Linked DNA regions of Homo sapiens. The gene in region 2 interacts genetically with the main gene of each other region. Each region holds a gene or a part of one and is shown on either strand. Other genes may lie near its edges.

What was found. A genetic interaction does not mean that the proteins touch.
Region 1: changes in SREBF2 (region 2) and KLHL6 together harm fitness less than expected from each alone (positive genetic interaction), as found in Homo sapiens cells (one large-scale study listed by BioGRID).
Region 3: changes in SREBF2 (region 2) and ATIC together harm fitness less than expected from each alone (positive genetic interaction), as found in Homo sapiens cells (one large-scale study listed by BioGRID).
Region 4: changes in SREBF2 (region 2) and PIAS1 together harm fitness less than expected from each alone (positive genetic interaction), as found in Homo sapiens cells (one large-scale study listed by BioGRID).

What each region holds. Positions count from the first base shown.
Region 1 is NC_000003.12:183,486,311-183,490,432, reverse strand, and holds the end of KLHL6 (kelch-like protein 6), read left to right. Parts: 3' UTR 1-2,882; downstream 2,883-4,122. UniProt on the Homo sapiens protein: Involved in B-lymphocyte antigen receptor signaling and germinal center formation.
Region 2 is NC_000022.11:41,863,656-41,868,621, reverse strand, and holds part of SREBF2 (sterol regulatory element-binding protein 2), read right to left. Parts: intron 1,792-4,966; coding exon 1,342-1,791; intron 12-1,341; coding exon 1-11.
Region 3 is NC_000002.12:215,328,333-215,333,298, forward strand, and holds part of ATIC (bifunctional purine biosynthesis protein ATIC), read left to right. Parts: intron 1-4,049; coding exon 4,050-4,175; intron 4,176-4,966. UniProt on the Homo sapiens protein: Bifunctional enzyme that catalyzes the last two steps of purine biosynthesis.
Region 4 is NC_000015.10:68,140,589-68,145,554, reverse strand, and holds part of PIAS1 (E3 SUMO-protein ligase PIAS1), read right to left. Parts: intron 3,610-4,966; coding exon 3,525-3,609; intron 3,266-3,524; coding exon 3,218-3,265; intron 1-3,217. UniProt on the Homo sapiens protein: Functions as an E3-type small ubiquitin-like modifier (SUMO) ligase, stabilizing the interaction between UBE2I and the substrate, and as a SUMO-tethering factor. Catalyzes sumoylation of various proteins, such as CEBPB, MRE11, MTA1, PTK2 and PML.

The DNA of each region.
Region 1 (4,122 bases), on a different chromosome or scaffold from region 2:
GGCCTCTTAGTGTTCACCAGTTGTACTGCAATATAGACAAGATGTCTCTAGAGACTCAAACTACTGTTTTATTAAAAAAGTAAACACCTGAGCACAGCTGGCCTACACAGGAGCGACAGATTCTCCTTGATGGTACACTTTCTAGTTTTTACACAGTGATTTAGGTCCACGTTCCTGATACCCCATCCTCCTGAAGCCTTCGTTTTCAAGACTTTTAAAAAGCACTTCTACTTGGTTTTTTGATCAGTGTAGCTCAATTGTGACTTAAAGAACAGAATCTGTCCTTCACTGTAAGAGCTACAGCTTTCAAATGAGCTCACTGGAAATTCATTCTAATCCCCAAGCTGGAGAAACAGGTTAAGAGATCCTGTTTCATATGCTGTATTTAAAAAGCAACAATGATAACAACATAGTAACTGCGTTACCCAATGGACTTTATTTTCATCATATGATTTCAATTCTCTTTATAGAGTTTTATTTCATATCCGGTGTGGCTTGTTCTTTTCAGCAGTTTGGGAAGTTAGTTATTAGAGTTGATAGTGAATTGAATTTTCATTAAACAGTCACGGTTAGAAGAAGCTAATATTTGAAACAGATTTTAAAAACTTGAAAAATTACAGGTGAGATTTCTGTTTATGCCAGATTATTGAAGATAAATATAAATGTATGTTGGTGTGTGAAATGCTCTGTGCCTTAGAAGCGTGACAGTTCAGCTCTCTGCTGTGGAAAGTAACACAGGGCAATAGAAACATATTTGTGGAATTTTAGAACAAACTATTGCTGACTCATGAGCACTATAATAACCATCAGGAAGCTCCCAACTGAAGCAATGTAACAGTGTAATCTAGTTCAATTCAGCAAACATTCATGGAGTTCTTCATGTCTGTCAAGCCTTGAGGACACCCACGAATGGCAAATCTCCACGCTAGACACTCAATACAGGTAAATAGGCCACCAGTTAATATTCTTGTTTTTATTTTCTTCAAGTTAGCTAAAAATGAGATGCGTATGAAGTGAGGAGGCTGGATCCAAGTCTTGATTGCCTTTCAGGGGGTCAAGGTGGTAAGCTGTGCAGTGAAGTCAACCAGTGGCCATGGCTTACATGTTTGTCTCTTTGAGATCGCCACCAGAACCATTTGTGAACTGATTTGTGAAGGAAAAGTCAGTCTTACTCCAAAGACTATTGCAGGGAGGAACTTCCAGAGAGGAAATCCAATGACAATGGTACTGGCATACACAGGGAGCCTCCCTTCAAAAAGACAGCGCCCCTAGTCAGGGAGGGGATGGCGGTCCTTTGATAAGACCCATAGGCAAACTTCGAGCCCATCAGCAGGTCAACCCTATGCTGGGAAAGTGAGGATTTGGGATTTCTGTGCTATAAACCTGATTCTAAATGTAGGACCCAAGTTTCTGGACTACTTCAGAATACCTAAATGAATCATGGAAACACTCTTTATGATTTTTTACAACACCAGATATGCAGGTGAATTGTGGAAAATGTCATGTAGCTGACACTCAAGAAATAGGGATTCCTAATAATGGCATGGGTAGGGAACAGATACACCTGGTTAGAAGGTCTAGGGTTCTGTATATGAAGCTGCCAGTCTGTAGCTCTTCGAGAAAGAAAGTTCAAGTCATTTGGGGGAAACTTAAGAATAGTCATCAGGGTTTTAGCTTCTAGGCACCAGCCAAGGATGAGAACTTCTAAAATCTAAAATCCATTTCAAGAAATAAAGACGAACACATTTGCAGGAAGGTAACTGTTATAACCCACACCATCAGCAGGGGGAAAGCCAAGCTGAGAATAAACCCAGAGACAAAGAACCCTCGGACTCAGGCAGGACATGGCAGGATGTTCTGGCACAGCAGACTGGAGACTGAGGCAGGGCCTGTGAGTGGACAGAGCACCCCTGGCTGGGAAGAAGAAGATGGGGTAGGAGGAGGTCAGGTTCCAAGGATGCAGGTCTGGAAAATGATATCGGAGGCCCTGGAGTTTGTGAGCTTGGCTCTAGTCCCAAGAAGGGTGAGGGAGAATAAGGGTAAGGGAGTATTCTAGGCAAGGAACTAAGGAAGGAATCCCCTTCTTAGAGCAGAGGCACAAGTTAGAGCAGGCCCAGCATTTGGGCCAACTTACTGTGGGGCCTCTGAGCTGCTCAGCTGGGTCTCCTGTCCTAGAGGGAAGGTGGCCCAGAGTCTTTGGTGGAGCGGAATCTGTAGATGAGGTTAAGGGACTCCAGTTGCCAAGGTTGATCTGAAACAGGCAGGGAGCTAAGCTCATCAGAACACCAACAGATTCATGTTCTCGTCTTAGCTTTCATCTATTCTGGTCTCAATGGCTTCGGGAAACACACATATACACATACACCATGCCCTTGAACTCAAAGCAAACTACGCTCTCAGGGAAATACAAATATCACGTTCTTATAGCTGTAAAGTATAGCTTAGCTATTTATAGAAGACTATGAGGTACTGTTGTGAGTTATTTGCTTATCCTGTTTTATTCTGAAAAATGAAAGTGCTCAATAGAATTTTTAACGTTGGCAACACCATAAGGATTTCTTATGTTAAGTCCCAACTTGGGGTTGCAAAATCATTTTTTCCCTTAATACCTGGGTGTTGTATTAGATCTCATAATTTGACAAGTTAACCTTTTAGAAATCCACATATATCTCAAATCTGGCTACTGCAAAACCAGTTTTGACAGGTCAGATTTTCATATGTATAGGTATAAATAGCCAACACTCAGTGAACAAAATCCTTTAAGCATTTTGGTTACATAAAGTTGTATGTTTTAAGTGATCAAACTAAGAATATTGTTTATAGGTTTTAAAAACCAAACCAATAAAATTTTTATTTATTCAATAAAATATGCACAGAACAGATGCAAATGTGTTATATACAATCATGAAGTTTTTTTTTTTTTTTTTTGCTGTTTTTAGTTTATATAAATGAGTGGTGTCTGAATAGAAATTAATTTAGAAGGTGGAAATTTAAAACGTTTCATTTGGTTCATGGGACTTTAGATAAGTTCATAGGTTAAAATTCACCAGGTTTGATTTATAGAATGTCAAAGAGTAGACAGATTTTCCCTCCCTAAAGATGCATTGCCTCGCTGAGCAAGCTTTTACCAACCCATATGCAAACTGCGTGACTCTTCTCTTGCCTGGCCTCAGCTCTTCTTACAGGAGACCCCCTTCTAGGTTTTTGATTACAGGTCTGACCTTTTAGCCTGCGTCCACCATTGTTCCTGTGTTGTCTCTGAAGCCCTCCCTGGTCTGTGCTTCTCAAATTGGGGCACGTGTAACTTGGGGTATGAGACTTCCCTTTAATCACTGGAAACCTTGTTATCAATTTAGTTTGTTTTGGTTACAATGCAAGACTCCTGTGTATTTGAAAAGGAAAATCAGAGGCTTTAAAGAAATCTGGGGTTCCATGAATAGCTTCAGACCTTCCCCTCTGGGCATCCCCAGAGGTAGATGTTCTGCCTTAGGACTTCTTGGTGGAAACCCTTGGGAATCACAGACCCAGCTTCCTCACTGGTGGGGAATGTTCTGGAGTGATCTTGGGCCCTGGATCTGAGTGCCAGTGCACCAGCTGTGAGTCAAACGGAGTTTTGACCTTAACTTTGCTGCTGAGCCTTCCAATTTCCCCGCTGGGTCTAAGTGATAATCTCATGTCTGGGCAGTTTGGCCGGGGCCAGGCATCTGCCCAGCTTTTCTTAGTGCCTCCCCCTGCACCAGCTCCTCCCTGCTGGTGTATGGCATCTTCTGGACCAGCTCCTTTTCACTGGACGTGCAGCCTTCATACAGGATCTCAGTTCTCTCCCGCCCTCCATAGGCCCATGCCTTATGTTCCGTTCCTGCATGTGGCCACAGTTGAAAACTCTTTGGTGCTGGGGATGAATCCAGGTCCAGTCCCACCCTCCCCAGTCTCCCCACCATTGGCCTGGCTGCTTACCAGTCACTCTGTTTTTCACTTCCATGTTTGTTTACTGGCACCTGGGGATTTTCCTTTTCTCTTTGCACATTCAGATGTCTGCTTTGTTATTGATTCCCACATGAAACGCTGCCTTGAAACCCATGCCCAACCATCTCTACTCATCTGCCTGGATAGAGAATATGA
Region 2 (4,966 bases):
AGGCTGAAGGACTTGGGAGAAGAGGAGAAAGAAGGCACAGAGATGAGGAATGCATTCTGTCACTGCAGCTGCAGCAGAAACCTGAGGATGGAGTATCTCATAATGATTCCAACTCCCCACCTACTGCTGAAGATGATGTGCACAGCCATTTACAAGGTGGCTTAGACAACAAGAACATCCCATAAGGGCTGCATCAATTTCTGAGGGAACGAGTACAAATTGTTTTATTACTCTGGGTGCCAGGGTGGGGGAAAGGGAAGCTAATCAGCAAATGACTGCACCCAGCAAGGGAGTTAACAGATGTTGAGAATCAACAACTCCCTGGGGCTTCATTTTCTTCCATCCTTTCTGGACGGCAAGTGCACTTTGGGAGGACTGTCTCAGCTTTTTGCCTTTACATTCCCCCACCTGTCCCAATTCTTGAACTCCATTGAAGAACTATAAGATTCTTTGAAATTCAAAGCAATACTAATCTTACCCTGGGCTCCCCACAGAGTCAGAGGGAAATATGATGAAAAGGCACTGGGATGCAGCACATCACAGAAAGAACAGGCCCCTTTCAGTCATCCATTCCCTCAACACATACTAAGGGCCCAGCATGAGGCTTGCTACTTGAAGCTGCTGCACCTATATTAAAAGTCATATTCATCACCATAGTGGATGCTCAGATGTTTGCTGAATGAATAGTTCTCAACTGTGGCAGCTGAGATCTGGCTGCCGCCTAGCCAATTTCAAGCCTTATTCAAGTCTCCACCACTAGTTATCAGAATGGCCCTGTGTCTACTATGCTTGCTGGATTTTTTTTTTTCTTTTTAAGATGGGAGTCTCGCTCTGTTGCCTAGGCTGGAGTGCAGTGGCACGATCTCTGCTCACTGCAAGCTCTGCCTCCCGGGTTCACGCCATTCTCCTGCCTCAGCCTCCCGAGTAGCTGGGACTACAGGCGCCCGCCACCATGCCCGGCTAATTTTTTCTATTTTTTAGTAGAGATGGGGTTTCACTGAGTTAGCCAGGATGGTCTCAATCTCCTGACCTCGTGATCCGCCCGCCTTGGCCTCCCAAAGTGCTGGGATTACAGGCGTGAGCCACCGCGCCCGGCCGCTTGCTGGATTTTTTAACCAAGTATTTTTGAATTAGGCGCAATAGATATTAAGGTATTTGAAGCTGCAGAATGTGACATGCTCCTGTACCAGTTCTTATTGCCAGTTACCAGAACCTCATTCAGACAGGACCATATTGATATACCTGCCATTCCTGAAGACGACAGAAATATTTACAGTGTCTGCAAACTGGCACATAAACATTGGAACCAACCAACCACTACCATTCTAACTTCTGAATCACCTTGAAAGCTAGTAGCTGCATTCTGGTATATCAAAGGCTGCTGGATGATCCTCGTCTGCGGAGTGGTGCTGAATGTTGGCGTGATCATTACCGTCTGTTGTTGCAGCTGAGTTTGAGGTTGAGGCTGGGGCTGGGGGCGGGGCTGAAGAATAGGAGTTGCCCTGGGTGTGGTGGGAACTGAGGTGGGAGAAACCTTGACTTGCAGAGTTGGAGCCTGTGGGGAGGCCGCCGAGGGAGAGAAGGAAGGTAATGTGACCTGGGTGAATGACCGTTGCACTGAAGGGTCCACAGCTCCGCTGCTGCTGCCCCTGCCATTGCTGCTGCTGCTGCTGCTGCCACTGCTGCCGCTGCTGCTACCACTACCACCACTGCCAGGAAAGGAGCTACACAGCTGTTCTGAAAACAAGTCAGGGAACTCTCCCACTTGATTACTGACAAATTGCAGCATCTCTGTGAACAAAAGAAAAGGAGTAATTTTATTGCTATCCAAAAAGTGAACTTTCAAACTTGCTTAAGAAACTAAGGCATGAAAACTCAATGACTTTCCTAAGACCATGGCAGAAATGGGTCAGGAAACCCTTACCTCTTTCTTGTGGGGATCATCTGGGCCAAGATGGCTGCCCAAGGTCCCAGGACAACAGGACAGGACTTTATCTGTTTGATGTTCTTTTCCCTCCTCACACTCACCTCCAGGCCCTTTCTCTCATTTTCTTTCTTTTTTCTTTTTGAGACGGAGTCTTCCTCTATCGCCCACGCTGGATGGAGTGCAGTGGCGCGAACTTGTCTTACTTCAACCTCTGCCTCCTGGGTTCAAGCGATTCTCCCGCCTCAGCCTCCTGAGTAGCTGGGACTATAGGTGCACGGCACCATGCCCGGCTAATTTTTGTAATTTTAGTAGAGACAGGGTTTCACCATATTGATAGGTGGGTCTCGAACTCCTGACCTTAGGTGATCCACCCACCTCAGCCTCCCAAAGTGCTGGGATTACAGGTGTGAGCCACCGCACCCAGCCTCTCTCTTTTTCCTGATTGTTTTGATCATAAAAGGAACTACCTTTGTACTAGATGGGTGCTGTTCTGTCGAAGGTACCAAGGGTCCTTTTTTACAGCTGGAAACACTGAGGCAGCGAGTAGGGAGTCACTGTCCTAAGGCTGTGAGTATAGCGGTTTTGGCTTGTGAGGCCACCTCTAATCCTAGCACTGCAGACCCAAACTTGCTCTAACCTCTTTCCTCCTCACCACAGGGAGGCTCTAGGCCTCCTCTCCAAGCTGAGTAAAACCCTGGGCACTGTTGGTATTCTTGGAAACACTCAGGGACAACCAAGTTGATGGCCCCTAAGTCATGGAGCTTCAGGGATGCAAAGAATGGAAAAACCATATATGAAGTCCAGGAGAGGAAAGTAACTTGGCCAAGGTCACACAGCTTGTCAGGGTACAGCTAGGATTAGAACCAGTTCTCTGCCTCCCAGCTTTGTGTTCTTCTACCACAACACAGTGCAGGTATGTTGCCAGGCCAGGACACAGCAAGCCTGCCCCACCCTGAACTCCGTGCTTCCCAGGGCCCATGCTAGCCCTTGTCTGGTTGTGCCCCTTTTCTCTGGGCAAGGAGTCTTGGGTCCAAAGGGATTTGTCCACCTGGAGACCTCGCTTCCCTTTCTAGATCATGTTCCAAGTAGCTGGGACCCTTAAATTCCCAGCCCAAAGGGTCTCAAGCCTACTTCCAGGGCCTCTTCCCTGGTCAATCTTCCCAAAGGCTTTCCAAAACCCAACTTAACCCACAACTACCCCATCATCTCTCACGACTCCCTTCTTTTTCATATGACTGGTCCCTATAGAAGTCAGGAGCCTCAGCTTTGTCCCAGATAGTTTCAGACCTACAATTCTCTACATTGTCCATATTCTTTTCTCTTTTCTCTCTCCAATACGTTCCCAAGAAGCTACTGCTTGTTCTTGAACTATGGCCCCTCCTTTCCAAACCTTCAAGGCCATGTGATGCTCTGATTTAGACACCAAAACAACAAAAACCACCACACCACCACTATAAAAAAATAAAAGGAACCATCTCCATTCCCCCAAACCTCCACCAAGATGTCCTTCTCAGGTCTCTGATGCTGTGTGTGTGTGTGTGTGTGTGTTTTTTGGGGGATGTGGGGGCCTGGAGCCTGGGGTATATTTGTATATCTGACAAACAGAAAGCTGCTGAGACCGGTTGTGGTGGCTCATGCCTGTAATCCCAGTGCATTGTGAGGCCAAGGTGGGAGGGTCACTTGAGGTCAGGAGTTTGAGAACAGCCTGGGCAACACAGCGAGACTCTGTCTCTCTTTTTTTTGAGATAGGGTATTGCTCTGTCACCCAGGTTGGAGTGCAGTGTTGCAATTTCAGCTCACTGCAGCCTCCACCTCCCAGGCTCAAGCGATCCTTCCACATCAGCCTCCTGAGTAGCTGGGACCACAGGTGTGCGCCAACCATGCCCGGCTAATTTTTGTATTTTCTGTAGAGACGAGATTTCACCATGTTGCCCAGGCTGGTCTCAAACTCCTGAAAAGCAACCTCTCGGTTTGGCCTCCCAAAGTGCTGGGACTACAGGCATGAGCCAGGGCACCTAGCCAGATCCCTTCTCTGAACACAAAACAAACAAACAAAAAAACACAAAGATTTTTTGGGCCGGGCGCGGTGACTCACGCCTATAATCCCAGCACTTTGGGAGGCCAAGGCGTGCGGATCACAAGGTCAGGAGATCGAGACCATCCTGGCTAACACGGTGAAACCCCGTCTCTACTAAAAATACAAAAAATTAGCTGGGCGTGGTGGTGGGCGCCTGTAGTCCAAGCTACTCGGGAGGCTGAGTCAGGAGAATGGAGTGAACCCGGGAGGCAGAGCTTGCAGTGAGCAGAGATCGTGCCACTGCACTCCAGCCTGGGCAACAGAGCGAGACTCAGTCTCAAAAAAAAAAAAAAATATATATATATATACATATATATATATATTTTGATATTTTGTGTGTGTGTGTGTGTGTGTGTATATATATATATATATATATATATATATATATATATATGCTTGCAGAAGGATAGGAAAAATAAATCATAATTAAATGTAAATAGGCCAGGGGTGGTGGCTTATGCTTGTAATCCCAGCACTTTGGGAGGCCAAGGCAGGTGGATCACCTGAAGTCAGGAGTTCGAGACCAGCCTGACAAACATGGTGAAAACCCCTGTCTACTACAAAAATTAGCCAGGCATGGTGGTGGGTGCCTGTAATCCCAGCTACTCGGGAGGCTGAGGCAGGAGAATCGCTTGAACCCAGGAGGCAGAGGTTGCAGTAAGCCGAGATGACTGCGTCACTGTACTCCAGCCTAGGGAACAGAGCAAGACTCCGTCCCAAAAAATAAATAAATAAATAGATAGATAAATAAATAAATGTAAATAAATAAAGCTGCTGGGGCTTTCTAGTGTAGTCTCCATATGGGATAACTGGAGCTTTGCATTTCAATCTGGGCACCTTAAGTATTCAGTCAGTTAAACCTGCTGGGAAAAACAGCATCTCACCAGACTACATTCCTACATAGTGGTATTATTTACCAACATCTTGACACTAAGCTCTGTCCTCACTCAGCCTTGTGCGAG
Region 3 (4,966 bases), on a different chromosome or scaffold from region 2:
GACCCTACTTAAAGCCATTCCTTGGCTTTTCTTAAGCACTTTGCCCTGCCCCACAAACCCTGTGCTGCCTGCCTGCCTCCTATCTGCCCCCTCAGCAGCTCTCCCTGCGCCTGCTGCTAGCCCCTCCGCCCTGTGCCTCCAAGTGGGCCCAGCTCTTTCCACTCCAGCGCCTCTGGCTCCTTGTCCCCTTCACCCAGAATTCTTCCCTCTGCCCTTCACCGTCCTGGTTTCTTGTTATTCAGGCCTCACCTCCTCAGAGAAGCCTTCCTTGACCGCTTAGACCAAAGTAGCAGCCCATCATGCTTTCATCCCATCACCCTGTTTTGCTGCATGTGTTTCTATTCAATCTGTTCAAATTGTCTTCCCCCATTAGGATGGCAGCTTCCTTTTTTTTTTTTTTTTGAGATAGAGTTTCACTCTTTTCGCCCAGGCTGGAGTGCAGTGGTGCGATCTTGGCTCGCTGCAAACTCCACCTCCCGGGTTGAAGTGATTCTCCTGCCTCGGCCTCTCAAGTAGCTGGGACTACAGGCGCCTGCCACCACACCTGGCTAATTTTGTATTTTTAGTAGAGATAGGGTTTCACCACGTTGGCCAGGCTGGTTTTGAACTCCTGACCTCAGGTGATCTGCCTGCCTCGGCCTCCCAAAGTGCTGGGATTACAGGCATGAGCCACAGCGCCCAGCCAGGATGTCAGCTTTTGAGAGCAGAAGCTGCATCTGTTTTTGTTTGTCGCTGAATCCCCAGGGCTTAGAAGACTGCTTGGCACATTCCCTAAATGTTTACTGAATGAATAATTAGCAACCTGACATTTTGCACAAATTTTTCCTTGTAGGACTTCTTGAAACTGATTTGTCTGCTGTTATATCTGACCTATTTCCTGCTTATAGTTTATATTCTCCATTAAGATTCTGAGACAAAAAAATCCCCATGTACTGTCAGTTCTTATACTTTTCATTTTCCAAAGCATTTTCATTGGACTATATAAAAGCCTTCATTGTTCCTTAGACTGTGTGTGCGTTTCTTTTGAAGTTTAAAGTATTATTTGTGGTAAACATGGCAGAGGCGGCCCTGGACACGTAAATAAGCGTTTCTTGTGCGAGATTCCCAGGATTTCTCCCCAACATGGGCTTATTTCCACAATAGAAAAGGCACTTTGCCTTTTCATGTGGTTTGAGTATTTGGCAGTGATGTTATTACAGAGTGTATGGTTGCGATTGTATCTAAAACAAAATTGAAGCAAGAACAAAGATGGGGTTGTGTGAGTGTGTGTATGTGTCTGAGATTTTAATGACTGGTTTGCTTATGATTGGAAAGAAGAAAATTCCTATTTATTTCAGCTATTTACTAGATTAAGCAACTTTCAGCATTTCTCTGGCACTTTCTATTTCAGTTATTAATGTCTTTGAAAATTTGATATTTGAAGGGGAACCGGATACTCTTTTTTTTTTGAGGCAGAGTCTTGCTCTGTCGCCCAGGCTGGAGTGCAGTGGCATGATCTCGGCTCACCACAACCTCCGCCTCCCAGGTTCAAGTGATCTCCTGCCTCAGCCTCCTGAGTAGTTGGGATTACAGGCATGTACCACCAGGCCCAGCTAATTTTTGTATTTTTAGTAAAGACAGAGTTTCACCATATTGGCCAGACCAGTCTGAAACTCCCAACCTCAGGTGATCCACCCACCTTGGCCTCCCAAAGTGTTGGGGATTACAGGCATGAGCCACCGCACCCATCCAGATACGCTTAACTATGAGATGTTTCAGAAACCAAAAGTTTTCTCCCACTTATCAACCTTAGCCTAAACCATCTATGAGGAGTGGGAGGGAGATGGGGGAGTTGTACATATGGTGTTTTGTTTTATTATGCCTGTTGTATGCCTTAGGGGATATTTTACTTCTATTGTTTACTATTTATTGCCTAGTTTGTTTTCTTCTGTGCCTCTCGCATAAATTTCATGAGGACAGTGATTTTATTTGACTTGATTTTTGGTTGGGGGAATTATTTTTTCAAGTTCTTTTTAAAACGGGCTTTATTTTTTTAGAGTAGTTACAGGTTTACAGAAAAAATACACGGTGATTATAGGGAATTTCCATATACCCCGCTTCCCCGCAGTTTCTCCTGTTAACATCATGCATTAGTGTGGTGTATTTGTTACAACTGATGAACCGATTTTGATTCATTATTAACCAAGGTTCATAGTTTAACATTCATTCTTTGTGTTGTACATTCTGTGTATTTGGAAAAATGCACAGTGGCATGTCTCCCCCATTACAGTATCATGCAGAATAGTTTCAATGCCCTAAAACTCCCTTGTGCTCCTCCGCCTCATCCCTCCTTTCCCTTCTCCCCAACCCTTTGCAACCACTGTTATCTTTTTCTCTTTTCTTTTTTTTTTTTTTGGAATGGAGTCTTGCTATGTTGTCTGAGCTGGTTTTGATATCCTGGGACTCAAGCAGTCCTTCCGCCTTGGCCTCTCAAGTAGCTGGGATTACAGGCATGCACCACCATGCCCAGCTGTTTTTACTGACTCTGTACCCATTTCCAGAATGTCAGATAGTTGGGATCATACAGTATGGAGCCCTTTTAGGCACTTTCAGTTAACAACATGCATTAAGTTTCTTCCACATCTTTTTGTGGGTTGGTAGCTTATTTCTTAATGCTGAATAATATTTCACTGTGTATGAATGTACCACAGTTTATCCATGGACATATTGAAGGGCATCAAAACTTCAAGGACAGTTTTTGGTAGTTTATGAACAAAATTGCTATAATCATTTGTGTGCAAGTTTTCAACTCATTTTGATAAATACCTAATATTTTCTTTTATTGTATACTATTTATTGCCTATTTTTTATTTGCCTCCCCAGTAAGCTCCATAAGGACAGTGACTTTTTTTTAAGAGGGTTGCAGGGACGGTTTTTTTCACTGATGTATCCTGAATACCTAGAACAGTGCTTAACATCGTAGTAGGCAACTCAGTAAATATTTGGCAAGGTCTTTAAAAACTATCTTAACCCATGAAGGACATGAAATTACACATTTTTGTTTTTTGGGTTTTTTTTTTTTTTTTTTGAGACGGAGTCTCGCTCTTGTTGGCCAGGCTGGAGTGCAGTGGCGCGGTTTCGGCTCACTACAACCTCCACCTTCCAGGTTCAAGCGATTCTCCTGCCTCAGCCTCCCTAGTAGCTGGGATTACATGCGCCCGCCACCACACCCAGCTAATTTTTGTGTTTTTAGTAGAGACGGGGGTTTCACCATGTTGACCAGGCTGATCTCGAACTCCTGACCTTGTGATCCACCCACCTCGGCCTCCCAAAGTGCTGGGGTCATGGGGGTGAGCCATTGTACCCGGCTCATTTTTGTTTTTAATTAGTGCTGGCCCACCATTTCTTTCTGTGTGCTGAACTTCTTATGTTTATTCACAAGAGATACTAGCTCCTAAAAAAATCTGCCAGTGTTGAGAAACTAGGTAATGGAAAACTCTGAAGTTGCAGTCTCCTTTTAACTACAGTTCTGCTTTAGGCAGAGTCTGTTGAGTTTGCCATCAAAGAAGAAAGAAAAAACACATTATTTCTTCTCTTCTTCCACCCACAGCTGTTGCTTTAGCTTGTAATATAATTTCTTACATCGATAGGGTTTATAACTTTAATTTTGTACTGTCTCTGTGATTACCTCAATTGTTTAATCTTAGTTCTGTATTTACATGAATTCCTGACTGATCACTAGTCTTGTCATAGTTTCTCCCATCCCTAAATCTCTTATTGTGGATTTATTTCTAGACTGGCTGGTTCTGGTCCTCCAGTCGTGTGTGTGTGTGTGTGTGTGTGTGTGTGTGTGTGTGTGTGTGTTCATGTACATGTGCATTTTTTTTAAAGATGGGCTCAGGCTCAGTTGCTTTGTTCTTTATCATCAAGATTTTATGTTTGTGTGTATCTGTTTGGCTCTTAATTATACTTAAAACATTTGTTTAGTCATGTTATTTTTTTGAGAAGTGTGCATACATCTGACCTTACTGATCCTGCTTAGTAATGTGCATGTATATTTTTACATTTAGTTCTAAATGGAGCCCCTGGATTTATAAACTTGTGCGATGCTTTGAACGCCTGGCAGCTGGTGAAGGAACTCAAGGAGGCTTTAGGTATTCCAGCCGCTGCCTCTTTCAAACATGTCAGCCCAGCAGGTAAAGCTCTGTGCTCTGGAAAGCTCCAGAATTGTTCGAAAGGCATTTCTTCTTAAATTTTTTTGAATATTAACAAGTTCTAATGTGAATATAGACATGCTATGAAATCTGAAAGTCATCTGTTGATAACAGTATCAATGTAATAATATAAAATCTGATACACACACACACACAGAATTGTGTAATATTGTCAGGAAAATGAGGCAGGAATTTGTTTGTGGGGTGGAACCATAAAAGTTTAGAAAATAAAAGTGAAATGTCCTAATGCAATAGACTAAGTCTTGTGCCACATCTTTGAAAATGTAATGGAGTAAACATAAAGAAGTTCTTCTTTGGACTCTTTATCTGAAACTTCTTATAGTCGTTGTATGAGATACTTTGCTTCTGTGTTTAAATCATGAACTCCGCAATTGAGTTGTCTGTACACCACATCTTGCTGACAGTCCTCCAGCACATGATTTGTTCTCAGGTGTTTATTGGGTGTTAAAGTGATGTGAGTGGGGAAGAAATAAATGATGTGTGATATCAAAGTGATATCAAGCAGAACAGAGAGAAAGAGTGAGTCAGTAATGAAGTAAACGAGCTTCACCTACACGCTGGGTACTGTCAGGCTTCAGTGGCTCTGTGGTTTTGGAGGGCAGAGAGGAGATTTCCCTCACACTGCTCCCACAACCATATTTTTAGTGTATAATTATCTGGCTAAATAGATTTCTGTTTAATTTAGCACAGGCACTAGAAAATGTGCTGCGTAGACTGGGTGTTAAGAAAACTGTCTTGATTTAGGAGTTGAC
Region 4 (4,966 bases), on a different chromosome or scaffold from region 2:
CTGAGAAGCACTAGTTTCTTCAGTGATTAACAGATGTTAAAAGAAAAAAAGACTCGTTAGTCAAATAAAATTAAGAAATTCTGAATCAAAACAATTAAATTAAGCTTCCTTAATACAGAACTTTTCAGAGCTTTTAATAGGCTAATAAGCATTATAAATCTCTAAGAGGAAGACCTACCACCTGTATGCAGTATTTTCCAAATTTATTTGCCTATGAAACACTTTTCTGGTTCTTAGCAGAAAATACTGAGAATGCTTTTAAGTCCATCCCCAGGATCAGTAAGCCAAAGTACTCCTTATTTTTTGAGAACTGAAGATATTGAATATTATTTGTGTTATAGCCACATAAATTTAGAATACTATTTTAGAAACTTATAAAAATATTTCTAAATTAAATGCAGTCTTTTGGAAAAATCAAGGAAAGATACATAATTCATAAATTCTCAGTCTATTCACTCTTATTACTATTTTGCTATTTAAGGCATTTATTCTTTATTAGTACCTATTCTCAATATACACCTAAGGCTCATTGCACTGTTATAGAATGCTAATAGCACCCCTGAGTTACATAGTAGGGAGAACCCTATCTCCGAAATCTGTGAAATATTCCTCATGTGCCAACAACTCCTCTCAACACCTGCGGTATGGGGTCTTAACCTGCTGGCCATGAAATCTGAGTACGGGGATCGTGCACAATATAAAACAATTTTATATGTAAATTATTTTGAGTACATATACATGTTCAGTTTTATAGGGAAACCATTCACAGCTTCTATCAAATTCTCAAAGGGATCAGGGATCCATAAAAAAGTTAAGATTTACTGATCTACAAAGATTTTCTAGAAATATACTTAGCAAACAGATGTCAAAGCTCACAGGACCACTCCTAACCCCAGCAGAACCTTCCATTACAGGCTAATTCTTTAGGCTGCAATAGTTAAAAGGATGTCACAGTTTTTAAATAATTATTCCAATGCAGTGATCAATTTAAAACATGGACCCTGGCTGCCTGAACCCTTTCCTATAGGAAAAGAGTAATTTAAATGACAAGACAGTGTCTATTCAACTAATCTAAATCACCCTAATGAACTGAAGAGAAAAAAGAAAAAAAGGAATAGCAGAAAGTTTCTGTGAAGTGGTTCATGGGGCAGAGAGGAGGGAGTGGAGCAGGGAGGCACAACATAAATGAAAACAGACTAGGTGTCTAATAAAGAAAACTTGGATCCTAATTCTCAACTAATTATTTTTATGCTTTAGATAAACATTTCTAATTAGGATAGCAGATAGGCATACACTCCTAACTTAAATAATACACTATGGTTGCAGACCTAGCAACGTGGGGCAGGGAGAGAGATGAACTGTTTTATTAAAACACAAAGAACCACCTAACAATTACCAAATATAACACAACATGGTTCTTTTTTTTTTTTTTTTTCCAAGTCCTGGAGATACATTTCAATTAAAATAGCAGTCATCAAGATACCCTTGGAATCTCTGAATTATAGCTCATCTATCTAGACAACCTTACTTCAAAATGTGGACCACACCTGTTGCTGCTTTAAAGAATGTATGTATATTAATACAAAATACTTAGTAACTAGATCTTTTATTCTAAAGCTACGGTTTTTAAACTTTATTTTAGTCTTGGGACCCTGTCTTTAAGCAAAAATTAACCCAGAGTCAAACATGCAAAACAGATAAAAGAGATAAAAGAAGCCCCACTTTGGTTCAGACTGTGTATGTGTTTAGGAGAGAAGAGGAGGATGGCAGAAGAGTATGAACCCCTAAGGGTGGCTCCATGCAACAAGTTTGAAAACCACTGATTTAAAGGATAATGTCAAGTATCAGCACAAGCAAAATGTAAACTGTTGAGGCAGGAAGTAAAGAAGACTACAGCAATACATAATTAACTATGGAGACATCTTATTTTTGTCCTTTAATTTCTTCAGTCATTATCACAATCTGGCCGACATAAAATATACCTTTTATACAGAATCATCTTTAGCAGTGCCTTCCAAAACTGAAACTTAGATTATCACTAGTCTACTGCAGTAAGGTCCTGTCATACTGTTTTATGGTATAAAAGTTATTAAGTATAGTCATATCCTCTTTAGAATCTTCAACTCAACTTTCGACTTCAACTCTGCTTTCTCACTGTTTTTACCTTATTATTTCAAAGCTTAGATGAGAGGTTTTCACATGGTTCCATGAAGTGCTGAACAGGCGTTTTAGATTAATCCCTTTTTTAGCCTCCTAGTGTATTTGTAACTTGTACATACAACTTAGTATCTGATTATTGAGACAAGGCTAACTGTTTGATTTATCCTCCTGACAATTATAGGGAAAACAGCTTACTGAGGAAAACAACTGTCTTATATTTTCTCTTCCATCCCTATTCCAACAGTGTGGACATTTAAGTTGGTAAATCGAATAATAAAGCATAATATGATGGTTTATATAAGGGAGATATATATATATATGTATATAAAAGGGAGATATATAAGGGAGAGAAATAATACAAAATATTTCTTAGATATTCTAAGACAAATGAATGGGCTAAGAAAAGAAACTCAATAAGGGGTTGTGAATCCATGTTGGAAAATTTCCCATTAGTCTTTGAACATTTTTAAGAGATGTCTCAAATGGATCCTAAATTAGAGCATATTTAAATTATTTAAAATACAGAACAAAACAAATTAGAATATTTTGATGTTTGTTAGTCCATGACATACTGTAGACTTAAGTACTAATTCCTTATCCACAGTACTTTGCCTCTTATGGAGATAAGGCCCATGCTTTCATAAAACTTGATATGATATTGTAAGATATCATTAGCTGGAGCTTCTCAACCAACTGAGGGCAATCAAATATGGTTAGATATATAGAACATGACTTGCTATATTGAAATCTAAACTGGGGGGTGGGCGGGCAGGGGAAAAATCTAAATTGGATGAAAATTAGAATATCTCATAACAGGAGAATGTTTTCCCTCACCCAAATATCTAAACCTAATATTTTCAATACACTTATTGAAAAATCAGGTAGATTTCCTCTTATTCCTTAAAATTTTTTTTCCATTTCCCCTTCCTGATAAGGAATATTATCTTTTAAACTTTGAATATATCCTACAGTCAGCACTGTACCTTAACTGGACCCGTACTGTGAAAAGGAATATTATCTTTTAAACTTTGAATATATCCTATAGTCAGCACTGTACCTTAACTGGACCTGTACTGTGAAGTCACATTTGGTCCCAGAAATATCCCTAGAAGAGACAGAATAGGAATTACAATTACTTTTAAAGTATTTGCATGAAAGTTCATTCAAAGACCTTGTTACTCCAGAAAAGTTTTTCAAATTATCATAAATATAACTGTTCTTACAGTAACTAACACACTATACTTTCATTACTAATATTTGCATCACACAAATACTAACTCACCAATCACTGTTTTTTAAAATCATTTATTATAGACTACTGGATTCAAAGGTCAAACTTCAAGTTACACTTGACGACAACTTACATGGAACTACTGATTTGCTGCACTTGTTGTGGTGTCAAGGCAAATGCAAAACAGGTTTCTCGAAAGCGCTGACTGTTGTCTGATGCTAAAGAAGACAAGAATTATACTTTCAATTACCTTTAAATTCGCCAGTAAAGACAAAAGCAAAAAAAAAAAACACACATGTCTTTAATTAACTGGTATATATTCTAGAGTTTAGATAACAAGGCAATTAAAGCACTGAAAAATAAGAAATACACTAATTGTAACATAACAAACAGAAATAGAAACAAAAATGGCTAATTCCAGAATAACACATCAGGATTCAAATTCAGACAATACATAATCAAAGAAAGACTAAGGAAAATTTATCTAATCATATAAATGTTTGCATCTAAAGAGCACACTTGTATAAAAACATACGAATTTTATTTAAAATAGAATGATATAAACCCATTTAAAGAGACATGGTTTCTGGAAGAAGTAACAAACATACCCACCTTGAGAGCTAGACAGGTGAGATGACATTTGGTTTATAAAGTAAATTAAGAATTTTATCATCTCCTGTTTAACTCTACCATGCAAGTTTTATACAATAAATATCACATACAGTTTTTCTCCTAATCTTAGATGAGTTCAAAATTTGCTTATTGTCACTAACTCAAAGAAGGAAAAGAGTTGTAAAAAACAGAAGAGAATTAAGAAAGGAAGGAAGGGAGGGGAAGAGAGGTGGGAAGAAAGAGAAACGCATGCAAGCAGGTAGGTAAGCACAGTCAGACTAGACCAGGGGTTCTAAAGTATGCCGTTATGAGCAACAATAGTTCCATTAAAGGCTTTTTGTTTGCTTTTTTAAGAGACAGGGTCTTGCTCTGTTGCCCAGGCTGGAGTACAGTGGCACCATTATAGCACAAACTCAAACCCCTGGGCTCAAAGTGATCCTCCTGCCTCACCCTTCTAAGTAGGTAGGACTATAGGCATGCATCACCACATCCATTGGCTTTTAGTACATGTTAGATACATTTTTTTTTTAAAACAGTGGTTAATATCCCTTTTGCTCACTAATGAGCCCTCAGTGCTTGGCACAAAGAAGCACTGAATACTATTTATTTGTTGAATGAGTAAAGGAATACAAAATTTTAAGAAATAGCAGATTAAACTATTTATACTACTTTTCCAGGGTAATTTTCTAGAAGAAAATGATCACTAAGAGTTATTATTAAGAAACTATCGGCTTCTGGGGCACTTAAGGCCTGTGCTGAATAAGCAGCTGAAGTTGGCTGTTTCAATCTCTTGCTTAAACTGAGTTTGATCATACTTGCAAGAAACACTTCCTTTACAACTTCCAACCAAACTGCAATATGTCACGCAAAAAGTCGATACCAAACGTATCATTAAGAGAAAGAAATAGAAAAGAGCACTTGTTGATCTAGAATTCTATCTCAACATTAACAGTATCTTTAAAA